Linked DNA regions of Homo sapiens. The protein of the gene in region 1 interacts with the protein of each later gene in a pairwise test. Each region holds a gene or a part of one and is shown on either strand. Other genes may lie near its edges.

What was found.
Region 2: the proteins of MC4R (region 1) and ATRNL1 interact in a two-hybrid assay, tested with the Homo sapiens proteins (one study listed by BioGRID).

The regions. Positions count from the first base shown.
Region 1 is NC_000018.10:60,370,408-60,376,951, reverse strand, and holds MC4R (melanocortin receptor 4), read left to right. Parts: upstream 1-4,176; 5' UTR 4,177-4,602; coding exon 4,603-5,601; 3' UTR 5,602-5,890; downstream 5,891-6,544.
Region 2 is NC_000010.11:115,089,189-115,096,452, reverse strand, and holds the start of ATRNL1 (attractin-like protein 1 isoform 1 precursor), read right to left. Parts: upstream 3,089-7,264; 5' UTR 2,909-3,088; coding exon of another isoform or gene 2,817-2,908; 5' UTR 2,703-2,816; coding exon 2,410-2,702; intron 1-2,409. UniProt on the Homo sapiens protein: May play a role in melanocortin signaling pathways that regulate energy homeostasis.

The DNA.
Region 1 (6,544 bases):
TCCAAACTCACCAGCTCTGCAGTAGCTTTGACAACTAACATCCTATAAAAATGTTTAAAAGCATCAGTCTAGCAGGAAATGGAGGGTGCAAAATGGGGTTGGATCTTCTTCAAAGCTCCATTCCCGTTACCAGAGATGCCATCATTATTTTGACCTATCTGTTGGTTTCCTGACAAACTCTACTTGCAGGGGTTTCTTATTTGACCTAACTCAGAACTCACCCACGGAGAACAGTCTTTTCCTCAGGGACATTTGTTGGAAACAATCAGAACAACTGCTTAACATCATGGCTGCCTAAGGCAATGGATAGAAGTTGGCGAAAAAAAATCAGCTATTCAAAAAGCCTAAAAGAAAAAGCTCAAGAAAATGAGATGTCCATAGGAATTTATTAAAACTCTAATATATTCCTGAGAATCTAGAAAGCCGTACAAACATGCAGGACTGTGCTTATGATCAGAAACAACAACAACAACAACAAAAACTAAGAAGGTCTTGACTTCTCACCTCTGGCTGACCTTTGTGGCTGTGTGTAAGCAGAAGGTAAGGCCAAGGCAGAGTTGCCCAGTGCCTGGCTAAGTGTCAAAGGCATGCCCATCATGGACACAGAGTCTCTCAGCAATGACTAGGGGAGATGTTAGTTCCTGACATCTAAGGAAATCTCTGTCCACTTATCAGCTGACCAATAAGCTATCAGAGCAGAGACCTCATTGATCATACAAGACAAAGAATACAGACATTCTAGAATTATTTAAGAAAAATTACTGAACAACAACAATAACAAACAACAACAACAACAAACCCTGGGTAAGAGAGAAAATCTGATTTTCAGGGTTGCTGGATTGTGTTATTCAAAATTCCCCGTTTCTAACAAAAATGAATAAATAAAATGCAGGCAAATAAATAAGAAAATATAGCCCATACACATTAGGAAAAGGAAGTCAGCAGAAATTATTCCTGGGGAAGTCTAGATGTTGCACTTAATATATAAAGCCTTTAAATCAGTTCAAACATGTTCAAAGGATTAGCGAAAACTATACGTAAAAATTAAAGGAAATTATGAGAACAATTTCTCATCAAACAGAAGATATCAAAATATAAGTGTAAACTTTAATAACCATGGGTTAGGCAATCCTTTTTTAAATATGATCCCAAAAGCTCAGGCAACCAAAAAAATTTGATAAATTTAACATCATCGTAATTAAAAGGTTTGTGGTTTCAAGAACACTATCAATAATTGAAATGGCAAAAGTACCCAGAATATGTAAAGAGCCACTACAACTCAATAATTTAAAAAAATCCAATTAAAAATGAGCAAAGGATTTGAATAGGCATTTCTCCAAAGATTATTACACAAGTAACTGGTAAGGATGTAAAATCATCTTCAGTATCATTAGGCATTAGGGAAATGAAAATCAAAAGTATAATGAGAGTTCACTTCATATCCTTATGATGGCTAAAATAAAAAAGATGGACAATAGCAAGTGCTAGCAAGAATGTGAAGAGATTTGAACCCTCATACATTGCTAACTGGAAATGTCAAATGGTGCAGCCACTTCAGAAAACAGTTTGGCAGTTCCTCAAAACAAGAAACAGAGTTATCATATGATTCAGCAATTCCATTCCTGGTTGTGTATCCAAAAGAATTGAAATCATCTGTCACATAAGAATTTGTCCATAAATATTCCTAGCAGCATAATTCGTGATAGCCAAAACTGGAAATAACCCAAATGTTCCTCAACTGATGAATACATTTAAAAATATAATGTATACAGCCAGGTGCAGTGGTTCATGCCTGTAATCCCAGCACTTTGGGAGGCCGAGGCGGGCGGATCATGAGGTCAGGAGATCGAGACCACGGTGAAACCCCGTCTCTACTAAAAATACAAAAAATTAGCAAGGTGCGGTGGCGGGCACCTGTAGTCCCAGCTACTTGGGAGGCTGAGGCAGGAGAATGGCGTGAACCCAGGAGGCGGAGCTTGCAGTGAGCTGAGATTGCACCACTGCACTCCAGCCTGGGTGACAGAGCGAGACTCCGTCTCAAAAAAAAAAAAAAAAAAAATATATATATATATAAATGTATACATACAATGGAATATTACTCAGCCATAAAAACAAATCAAAACTGGGCACAGTGGCTCATGCCTGTAATCTCAGCACTTGGAGAAACCGAGATGGGAATATCGTTTGAGCCCAAGAGTTTGAGACCAGCCTGGACAACATAATGAGATTCAATCTCTACAAAATTATTTTTTAAAAGCTAGCTGGGTGTGGAGGTACATTTAGTTCCAGCTACTCAGGAGGCTGAAGTAGGAGGATCACTTGAACCTAGTGAGCCATGATCATGCCACTGCACTCCAGCCTGGGTGACAGAGCAAGATCCTGTTTTAATTTTTTAAAAATCAAATTCTGATTCACATTATAGTGTAAGCAAACCTTGAAAATATTATGCTACATGAAAACAGTGAGCCACAAAAGGCCACATATTGCATTATTTCAATCATATAAAATGTCTAAAATAGGCACATTGATAGAGACAGAAAGTAGATTAGCAGTTCCTAGAGGATAAGGAAAGGGTAAAATGGGGAGCAACTGCTAATGGGATAATGAAAATGTTTTAGAAATAGAAAGTGATGATTATGGCACAACTCTGTGAATATATTCCCCCAAAAATCCATTTAATTACTAAAGAGGTGATTTTTTTTGGTATGTGAATTATATGTCAATTTTTAAAAAGAGAAAAAATAAGGCAAGAGGAAGGTAAGATTATTTCCAGCTCATGATGTTCAGGAAAGCCCATTCCAGCATTTTACAATATACAGATGATTAGGCATTCAGAAATACAGGGGAAGGGAGTTGGAGGTGTGAGTTCTGCTCTGTGCAATCATTCAAGAGACAGGCTCCTTTCATGATATGGTCCTGCCACCTGTAACATGAGATTTCAAAGACAGGAGAGAAAACTTGTGTAAAATTATGAAAGAGCTAATGCGATGAGCCCCACTGTCAACATGCCATTAGCTAGAATTTAGTCATAAGGTCCTACCCAATTCCAAAGGTGGATGGAAGACGTTAATTTATCTCAATGCTCAGGAACAATACTTAGTATTGTCTCTGTCACAAAAGGAAAGAGGATACATTCCCAACCTAAGTAACTGAGATTCAGAATTAACCCTGAAATAAGCAGCTACAAACTATAGAGCACTAAAACCAAAAATAATCATAGAAGAAAAGAATATACAAAATTTTGTATAATCTGTTGTTCAGTTAATTTGGAAAGTAACTTTGCTGCCATCTTTCAAACCACCTTAAGCAAAATATTCAGAAACTTCAATAACTAACTAGTATCACCAGTCTTGGCTTGATAAGTAAAGTTACTAGGTATTTGTCGGTTCAACTTACGATACGTTAAACTCTGGAGGTTTAAAAAAAAGTTGCTTAAAAAAAAAAAACAGAATGCAGCTTATTATTTTCCTGAGTTCAGTGTAAGCATAGTTACATTAATGCCGTATGAGTTTAAAATATTGTAAATAAAAAGCACCTTTTTTCAGCTATAACACAAACTCCTCAATAGAGAAATATGGGATATTAGTGCATTAAAATCAACCCCTTTTGAACCCATTCATAATTTATAGCTACCTACATAGTTCTTCCAGCCATACCATGTCTATCTGTATCATTAAATATCCTCTCTGTTTTTCAGGTATTTTAACTGAACCACTACTGGCTGGGTTCTTAATAAAAACAAAAAATTAAGAAGGTAAATAAATTCAGTATCCTAGCCAAAAAGCAGAGTATCTGTTTCAGGAACATAAGACAGTATACTTTCCATTTCATTTTACACACACACATGATGTCTTTTACATAAGAATGAACCTGGCTGCCTGAAGATAGCTTGTTTTGATATCACAGAATGGCCTCTAGGGATCAAGTTGTTTCCCTTGAAAACTTAAAAAGGGAAATTCAGTCTCTTATCCGGCTTGCTTCTCGACTTCAGACTTCAGGAGCTTCTGCATCTGAATCTGTGTCACCCTGCAATTTGTGTCTCTGAAACATAATCCTGTCTCACAGACTCCCATTGCATTGGGATTGGTCAGAAGGAAGCAGAGGAGGAGCCACCGTGAACATGTTTTTTTTCTCTCCACACATCATAAAAATCAGCAGCTGGCGCCTACAGCCCCTAACACTCAAAGCAACGCTCAGGCTGGAAACAGAAGCTTCCGAGAGGCAGCCGATGTGAGCATGTGCGCACAGATTCGTCTCCCAATGGCATGGCAGCTTCAAGGAAAATTATTTTGAACAGACTTGAATGCATAAGATTAAAGTTAAAGCAGAAGTGAGAACAAGAAAGCAAAGAGCAGACTCTTTCAACTGAGAATGAATATTTTGAAGCCCAAGATTTTAAAGTGATGATGATTAGAGTCGTACCTAAAAGAGACTAAAAACTCCATGTCAAGCTCTGGACTTGTGACATTTACTCACAGCAGGCATGGCAATTTTAGCCTCACAACTTTCAGACAGATAAAGACTTGGAGGAAATAACTGAGACGACTCCCTGACCCAGGAGGTTAAATCAATTCAGGGGGACACTGGAATTCTCCTGCCAGCATGGTGAACTCCACCCACCGTGGGATGCACACTTCTCTGCACCTCTGGAACCGCAGCAGTTACAGACTGCACAGCAATGCCAGTGAGTCCCTTGGAAAAGGCTACTCTGATGGAGGGTGCTACGAGCAACTTTTTGTCTCTCCTGAGGTGTTTGTGACTCTGGGTGTCATCAGCTTGTTGGAGAATATCTTAGTGATTGTGGCAATAGCCAAGAACAAGAATCTGCATTCACCCATGTACTTTTTCATCTGCAGCTTGGCTGTGGCTGATATGCTGGTGAGCGTTTCAAATGGATCAGAAACCATTGTCATCACCCTATTAAACAGTACAGATACGGATGCACAGAGTTTCACAGTGAATATTGATAATGTCATTGACTCGGTGATCTGTAGCTCCTTGCTTGCATCCATTTGCAGCCTGCTTTCAATTGCAGTGGACAGGTACTTTACTATCTTCTATGCTCTCCAGTACCATAACATTATGACAGTTAAGCGGGTTGGGATCATCATAAGTTGTATCTGGGCAGCTTGCACGGTTTCAGGCATTTTGTTCATCATTTACTCAGATAGTAGTGCTGTCATCATCTGCCTCATCACCATGTTCTTCACCATGCTGGCTCTCATGGCTTCTCTCTATGTCCACATGTTCCTGATGGCCAGGCTTCACATTAAGAGGATTGCTGTCCTCCCCGGCACTGGTGCCATCCGCCAAGGTGCCAATATGAAGGGAGCGATTACCTTGACCATCCTGATTGGCGTCTTTGTTGTCTGCTGGGCCCCATTCTTCCTCCACTTAATATTCTACATCTCTTGTCCTCAGAATCCATATTGTGTGTGCTTCATGTCTCACTTTAACTTGTATCTCATACTGATCATGTGTAATTCAATCATCGATCCTCTGATTTATGCACTCCGGAGTCAAGAACTGAGGAAAACCTTCAAAGAGATCATCTGTTGCTATCCCCTGGGAGGCCTTTGTGACTTGTCTAGCAGATATTAAATGGGGACAGAGCACGCAATATAGGAACATGCATAAGAGACTTTTTCACTCTTACCCTACCTGAATATTGTACTTCTGCAACAGCTTTCTCTTCCGTGTAGGGTACTGGTTGAGAATATCCATTGTGTAAATTTAAGCCTATGATTTTTAATGAGAAAAAATGCCCAGTCTCTGTATTATTTCCAATGTCATGCTACTTTTTTGGCCATAAAATATGAATCTATGTTATAGGTTGTAGGCACTGTGGATTTACAAAAAGAAAAGTCCTTATTAAAAGCTTAACAATGTCTCCTTCGTGTTATTCATAAGCATTGGACACTTTGCGTGCTTTCGTAACATAGAAATCAGAGCCTCATTAAACATATTCTAATAAATGCTTTATTATATTATATTATCCACCATTGAAATGTAGAGAGTTCATTCTAGCAGTTAAGGGAAAATATTTAAAGAATAGATGTATAATCATTTTTAAAAATATCATCACTGAAATTTCAAGTAATTTAATTAAAGGTTTGTTCATCCTCCCTGTGCAGAAGTAGAAATGAAGCTCCTCTAGAGAGAAAAACAGGTGCTGAAAAAAGAGAGATGCTGAGTTAGAAAACTATGTGTACTTCTCAGACACAGAAAGATTCATCTCCCTTAGCAAACAGCCTGATATTTCACACAGGCAATTCGGTTTGGGGTGGGTGGGAAAAGGCAGCTATAGGGATGAAAGTGTCCTGGAAAACCTAAGTTGCCATGTCAAGCTAAATTTCCTGTTACCAAATTATCCCTAAACAATATTAATAAAACAGAGAATGGGGATTTATGCCCCCTTTAAACAAGGATTCAGGGTCTGCTGAAGTGTCCAGAAAAGGTAATATTGTACTGAGAGATTTAGCTTCCTGTTTCTAGAGAAGTACAGGACTGACATCGAATTCTTTCTCATTTCACATGAAAATGA
Region 2 (7,264 bases), on another chromosome or scaffold:
ATGCCAGGTAAAACAAGCTACTATCTTCAAATAAACCTTTCATAGGTTTATTTGCATGTACTTTACCAAGAAGAATTCTTTTCTACTATACATAATCCTTCTCTTTAACATTAAATACCAATGTGTTCTTTATCCCCAAGAGTATACATAATAAAAACACAGATCGTTACACCAGTTATATTTACTCTAATTAATAGCTTGTATTCCACAGAGAAATGCAAAAGCATTTACCCAATAGAGTACAATGAGTCCTAGGAAATAATAGCTTCCAAGGAAAAGATGAATACTCAGTGATTAGCTCAGGATTTATTGTTATTTAACAATATCTACATCAAATATCTATTCTTCTTCTACTCACTAATGTATTTTGTTTATGAACACCACCTCTCAATGTTATTTAAGCTAGTTTTAACTTGATCTGTGATCTTTTTAACTGGGACAACATCTGCTAGTGAGGTCACAGGCTGCTGATCCAGCTGATTAACAAGTTCCGCTACTTTAAAATGAAGCTTCTCAGGACTGCAGCAAATTTTGTCCTCTTTAGACAAACGGAGCAAACCCACCCACACAAAAGCCAATATCCCTACATATAAATCAGGCACTCTCCCTATTTATGTAAAAAAAATGTAAAAAATGGATGAGGCTTTTTCACTGCTGACTACCAGTTTACATGTTCAAAATTCTCTCTTGCTAGGTAAAGACGCTGAATTCTACTGTCATAGCAAACGTTTAAGAACACAAGCAAAAAAAAACAACTAACAAGCAGAATTCATTAAGATCTCTTTCCTCATCTTGAAACACTTTTTAAACTTTTAATCAGCATCTCTCCTAATTTTTTTAAAAAGTATTTTTAAAACTACATTACTATACTACCTTTAAAGTATAAACCCTAGAAAAATTTCAACCTATTGCATAAGTTTCATAAAACTTCACTTTAAGATTTCACTTCCAAAACCTACTAGTTAATTTAAATCATAGACTCTACCTAAAATTTTAAAGTGCCATTTTAAAAATATACATTTTTACATTGAGTTTTAAGGGACATTTATTTTAATCAGTAATAGTAAGTTTTTTTTTAAAAAAAAAAAAAAAGGAAAGTATGCTGTGTTTAAAATTCCAGGAAATTGTCCTAGAATACATTAATAAGGTGAACCAGTCTTACCTTTGCCTTAGAGCCCAAGAGAAATTTCACCTAGATTTTGGCTATCAGCCTAACAATATCAGTAATCTACAATATTCAAGAGCCACAAACCAGCCAGCAAACTTCATATTAAGTATCTAGAAGACTAAGAAGCTGACTTTCTTAATGACTGTTACCTGCATGTTGTTAGAAGCCTGCCCCAATATTAAGTGACTTTTGCTACTCCCCTACACTGTGACCCATTGCTTTTTATATCAGGCAAGAATGTAATAAACACCAACCAGTACGAAGAAAGTACCTTCACCTTAGCAAGCAAACTTCTTAGGCTCCTTGAGCTTCAAACAAGCCAAAGCGATGTTCCCGCACAAAAGCTGACAGTGAATTAACCGATCAGAAAAAAATCCATTATCCTCACCACATAAAAACGTCCTTCTATCTAACCTAAAGTCACCTTTGTATTTCTCAATTCAAGATTGTCCTAGCAAATACAACACAGCAAATTCGTTAAAAGTACACATTCTGGAGTGTGTACTGGCTCCAGAATGTGCCAGCTGATTTGGAATCATAACTCGGCCCTTACTACTGTGTAATCCTGGCCAAGTTACTTCAATGTATCGCCTCGATTTCTCTCCGTAAATCCAGCATAATAATTCTAGCAACTCACAGAGTTGTTGTAGGGAATAAATGAGAAAATTGACATAAAGCGCTTAGAAGAGTGTTTGGCACTTAGCAAGTCCATCATAAACTCTACTTATTAACATCACTATGATGACTAAATAAATGTTAGAAGGGGTCACCTCTAGAGAGAAGAGAATGGGGAAAGAGAGAGGCACTCATAGATCATAACTGAACCTTTACACTTTTGTGAATTTTTCACAATGCGCATGTATTTCATAAGTAACTTGGACAATTTCTGATTTTTAAATATTATCCCAAGAAAATGGTGCTGGGCATCATAACTGATTGTGAAAATGTTCGTGCTGAGCAGCGGATCAGAAGTCGCTGCGGACATCTGGAACGCTCGAGAAATGCCTAGCTCCCCGTTGGTCAGGGCTCCGCGCGGGCCCGAGCTCTCCCGGGGCGCCCCGGGGCTGGAGGGGGCGCGGCGCGGGCCCCACTCTCGCCCGCTCCCGCCGCGCGCTGAGGTTCACTCACGGCCGGGGGATCAGAGGCAGCGACGGGGGCGGGGGAGGCCGCGAGGGGGGCGGGGAAGGCCGCGACGGGAGCGAGGCAGGGCTGGAGGTTCGGGGTCCGGCGAAGGCACTTACTTGAACCTGCCCTGGCAGTGCTGGCACTGGTCCCCCACCCAGCCCGGGTCGCAGAGGCAGGTGGAGTTGACACAGCGGCCCGAGAAGCAGGAGCCGGTCCTCTCGCACGGCTTGGACTGGGACACCTGCGCGTAGAGCGCCAGGTAGAGGAAGCCATAGCACAGCAGCCAGCTGTTCCCGTCCAGCAGCCAGGAGGAGGCGCCCCCGCCGCCGCCGCCCGCCGGCCGAGCCCTCCACACCCCCGGGGCCGCTGGCTGCGGGGTACCAGTGCGGGCCCGGCCCCCAGTCTCCATCTTCCCCGGCGCCCCTGCCCGGCGAGACTGCGCTCGCGGGCGCCGACAGGGATGCTGTTGAAGGGAATTCCGGCCGCAGAAAACCTCTCCGCCGCCGCTTCTCCTCCTCCTCACCGGCGCCCGTCCGAGTCCCGCTCCCCGGTCAGGAGGGACAGATCCCAACCGCCGTCGCCTCCGCTCGGCTGCCTCCAGTCGCACTCGGGCATCGCCACCCAGTCTCCCGACCTTGTCCTTAGCGGGCCGACCCCACAGCCGCGGCGTCCCGGACCCGGCCGGAGGCGGGGAGCGGGAGGCGCAGACTGCGCCCGGCGCTCCTGAGGGGACCTGACCGGCAGGAGGAGGGGACCCCGCGCGCGGCCCCGCCTCGCCCGCGGCCCGCGCCAACTGCCTCGGCTCCGAGCGCCGCGCGCCCAGGAGGGCGGGGGCCGAGCGGGCGCCCCGAAGTGGGCGCGCCCAACGTGGAAGGGGGCGATCAAGGAGGCGGCGGTCAGCCCCGCCTCGCCCGCCCGGCGGTCAAGGGCGCCCCGGCAGCCATTCTGTCTCCGGTGCCTCGAGCCGGCCGCAGCGGCAGCGCCGGGAGCCCACGATGCGTGGGGCCGCCCCCCGCCCTCGCGCGCGCCTACACTCCTCCCCACAGGCCCGGCGCCTTGGTCTCGCCCCGCCCCTGACAGGGACCGGGGACTCCCCCACGCGCGCGCGCCCACCCCGCCTGGCCCGCGCGCTGACTGGAGACAGGCCCCCCAGGTGTGGCCCGCGTGCCCTTCCCCCCGGCCGGTGCGGGCACCCCGGCCCCACCCGCACCCCGCGCCCCGGGAGCCCCACGAATGAGAGATCGACACAGGCTTCGCAGCTTCAGCAGAAAAGAAGTCCTTCCCGTCCGCCGTCTGCAGCTGCAAAAGTGCAACGCTTTTTCCCTAGCGCTTCCCCCTTCCTCCGCCCCATCCTCCTGCCTATTTCTTCTTTTTCTCTTAAGAGAGAAAAACTCCAACAACACACAAAGAGCTGAGCATGTGCAGCAGGCAAAAGCCTTAAAGGCACCGCAGTCCGACCACGTTGTGGGGTCAGCGAGGGCTGGGAGGGGCGGGGATTGGGGACTGCGAGAGGCGCGAGGCGGTCTCCGCGGAGGGACCTCCGAGGGGGAGCCATTGCTGCCTCGGGAATAACGAAGCCCGCGCCCCCAACAAAGAACTGCGAGGCTCCGAGCCCCGCGCTCTCCACCCCTTACAGACGCTGCCTCGAAACCGCACGTCTCTCCTTTTCTGCTTGTCAGTGCTCCCTCCTCCATCTGGGACGATATTCTGCCTTGAAAAATATTGCAGCATCGGGGCTTTTTTTCAGAAGAGCAGAAGTGATGCCCACAAAAGGGCCGTTTTCCTTCCTCAGCAGCACTTTTTCTTCTTCAGATGACTTTCCAAGATTGGCTGGCATATTCTGAGATTTTTGTTTTGTACTTTGGTGCCTTCTCTAAACAGTTGCCTTTTTATTTGACCCCCTTGAGAAAGGAAGCCAAACACACATTGCAGCCATATATCCTCGAGTTACAGCAATGTTGCTGGAGTCCCACCAAAGAACAGGCAGTATGAAAAAGAATTCAAAATCCACCAAAGGCACTTCTCACAGAAAAAAAAAAAAAGAAGAAAGAAAAGTTTGTTGTAACTACATAGTCAAAATATTATTGTTAGGATTCAACTCGTGTTTATTTCGCGTCAGTTCTTTTCATGTCTCTTATCCCCACTTGCAGATGAAATCCTCCATTAACCCCATTTTGCAGATGAGAAAGAGCAACTCAGAAAGGTTGAAATATTGGCCAATGGCAGGTTAGGAGTAATGAACTGAGCTTTAGACACGAGGCCTCTGACTGCTGTGCTTTTTTCACTGCTTCTATTAGCAGATGCTTTGTTCTTCCTTCGGTGAATAAAATATACGTGTTGGCTTGGTTTAAAAATACCTCAGCAGTGACTTAAGGAGGAAAAAATAAAAACAAAGATCCAGAAGGAGTTGGCTCCTTCGCAAGGAAAAGAGCAAAAGGAAAACCACGATTCTCGTTGGCATACAGAACAAATCATAATTTCCATAATTTCAGGGTTTTACCAGTATCAAAAATGTCCTTATCAAACCTAGAATTAGGATGCCCTCTTCTTCCCTTAACATCTTTTCCACATCAGGCTGCCCCTTAGAGACTTCTTGAAATGAGTGAAGAAGCAGAGGAGAGAACACTGCAGACACCAGTTAAAAGGAAGATCCTGTTCTGGATCACATCTTTTCATTTCAATGACTGTGAAATCCAGAAGAATTCTTTCTAGTGTCAGCCATGCATGAACACTGTCTGCTGCTTTTCCATTCTTCTCCATCTGCCAGCCAAAGTCAGCCGCATCTTTCTCACATCTAAGGTAGAGTCGCTTTCAGACGTGGGGAAAGTGGCCAAACTCTTAAAACCGTCAGTGAGTGTGAAGGTAATTCAAAGGGTGCGCTGTAGTCCCTTTGACGAGAGAGATCACAGCTCAGTCACATACTGACTGTAGCCTGTATTTGAGCAGAGCTTGCCCATTAAAAATATACTCATAAGTGGGAGTTGAACAATGAGAACACATGGACAGAGGGAGGGGAACATCACACACCAGGGCCTGTTGTGGGGTGGGGGGCTAGGGGAGAGATAGCATTAGGAGAAATACCTAATGTAGATGACGGGATGATGGGTGCAGCAAACCACCGTGGCACGTGTATACCTATGTAATAAACCTGCACGTTCTGCACATGTATCCCAGAACTTAAAGTATAATAATAATTTTAAAATACATATCTTTTAATTGAATAACCACTATAATCAGCTCAGTACTTCACATTACACTGAAGAACATGCAGCCCCACGGGCCTCCTCTCAACATTGCCTTTAGAATCAAGCTGAATATATTAAATTTATATGAATTATTCTCACAAGGATCTCAGAATTTTCACTCACCTTGTATTTTGTTTCTCTCTCAAACACTTTTAGTCAACACTTACTGAGTAACTATTATGAATTTAAGCAAGAGAAAACAAATATGAATAAAGCATGATTTCTACCCCAGATTAGCTTATCTTCTATCAAGCTCACTAGACTGTGAGCTCATTATACAGTTGAGTGTCATATACTTTACAAATGTAGACACAGAAAACTTAAATTATTTTATATGGTCACACAAAAACTCAATGGCAAAGTTTGCCTAGAATCATGAGTTATGTTTCAGTACCTTCTATGATCAAGAAATGTTAAAGCTCCAACATATTTTCTTTTTTTCCAATTAAGTAGGGTCAGCCTCCTAGAAGTGCTATATCATACTGAAATAATTAATAGTATTGGTAATAGCAGTCATAAATCTAGCAAAAAGGTGAAAATTTACTCCAAAGCCATACTGGGGGAAAATTCACCCTACGGAAGTAGGATGAAACTGTTAAGAATTATCTATTTTAAATTCATCCAAGGGGAAAGATAAGAAAAGACTATTTGTTTTCTTTAGCCTTATATCAGGACCGTTAGATATTTTGAGGTGTATGTTTCATTTCCATTCATACTACTTAACAATGATGTTATAATATGATGGGCAAAAATCTGACATCACATCACCAGATTGTTTAAAGGAAATTTAAGTGATTTTTTAAGAGAACAAGAGAAATGATAGATCCAATATCTTTTGATTGCTACTCAAAAAGTAAAAGATCCTATTTGGGCTAATGAACCAAAGCAGACTCTTTTCAGTTGCTTAATTTAAGAATCTCTGTTCTCTGGTTATTGTTCACCCTTTGGCTTATATGAGGCTTCTGAAAGCAACCAAGATAATGAGAACTACAGATAGCGTGGCCTCAAAAGCTAGAAATGCATTCACTCAAAGGGACCCACAGCGAAACTGGGGCAGTATTCTTAAGACACAAATAGATGATGAATGGTCTGTAACGTTAGACAGTTTAAAAAAACAACCATCAAATTTAGGTACTTATTAAAAAATTATTGATGATATTTAAAATGTTTATATGGCTATGGATCTGAAACACCACCACCGTCCCAATCAAAATCTAACATTCTGCTTTCTCTTGGATTCATTCTTTTCTTCCATCGGTTTCCCTTGCTGTCACAGTTGCAAACACACACATACACTTCTGCCAATTTTTCTACTTAACACATTTCAAACATATTGTTATAAGTAAATCCAAGGAAATAAATCCAAAGATTATAAATTCACTATGCTGGGCTACTACATTCTTTTTTAGCTGGGAAATAAAATGAACATCCTTAAACTTTTAATCCTAAATATTCAGTCTTGTCACCAAAAAAAGTTGATTGCTAATAGCCAATTGCAGAAACTTGTCTTTAGTGAAATCTAATTCAATAAAAATATGGGCTAGGGCTTCCTGATAAACAAAGTAGATCAAGTATGTGCATTTACCTCTGCTCCCTCTGGAAACTCTGCCAACATGATAGGAAAGGTTTTTGTTTTTTGTTTTTTCTTTTAATTTTTTTCAGGTATAAACTCACAATGATAAAGAAAATGAGAAAACAGCCAACTTGCAGATGAGAGGTGACAAGG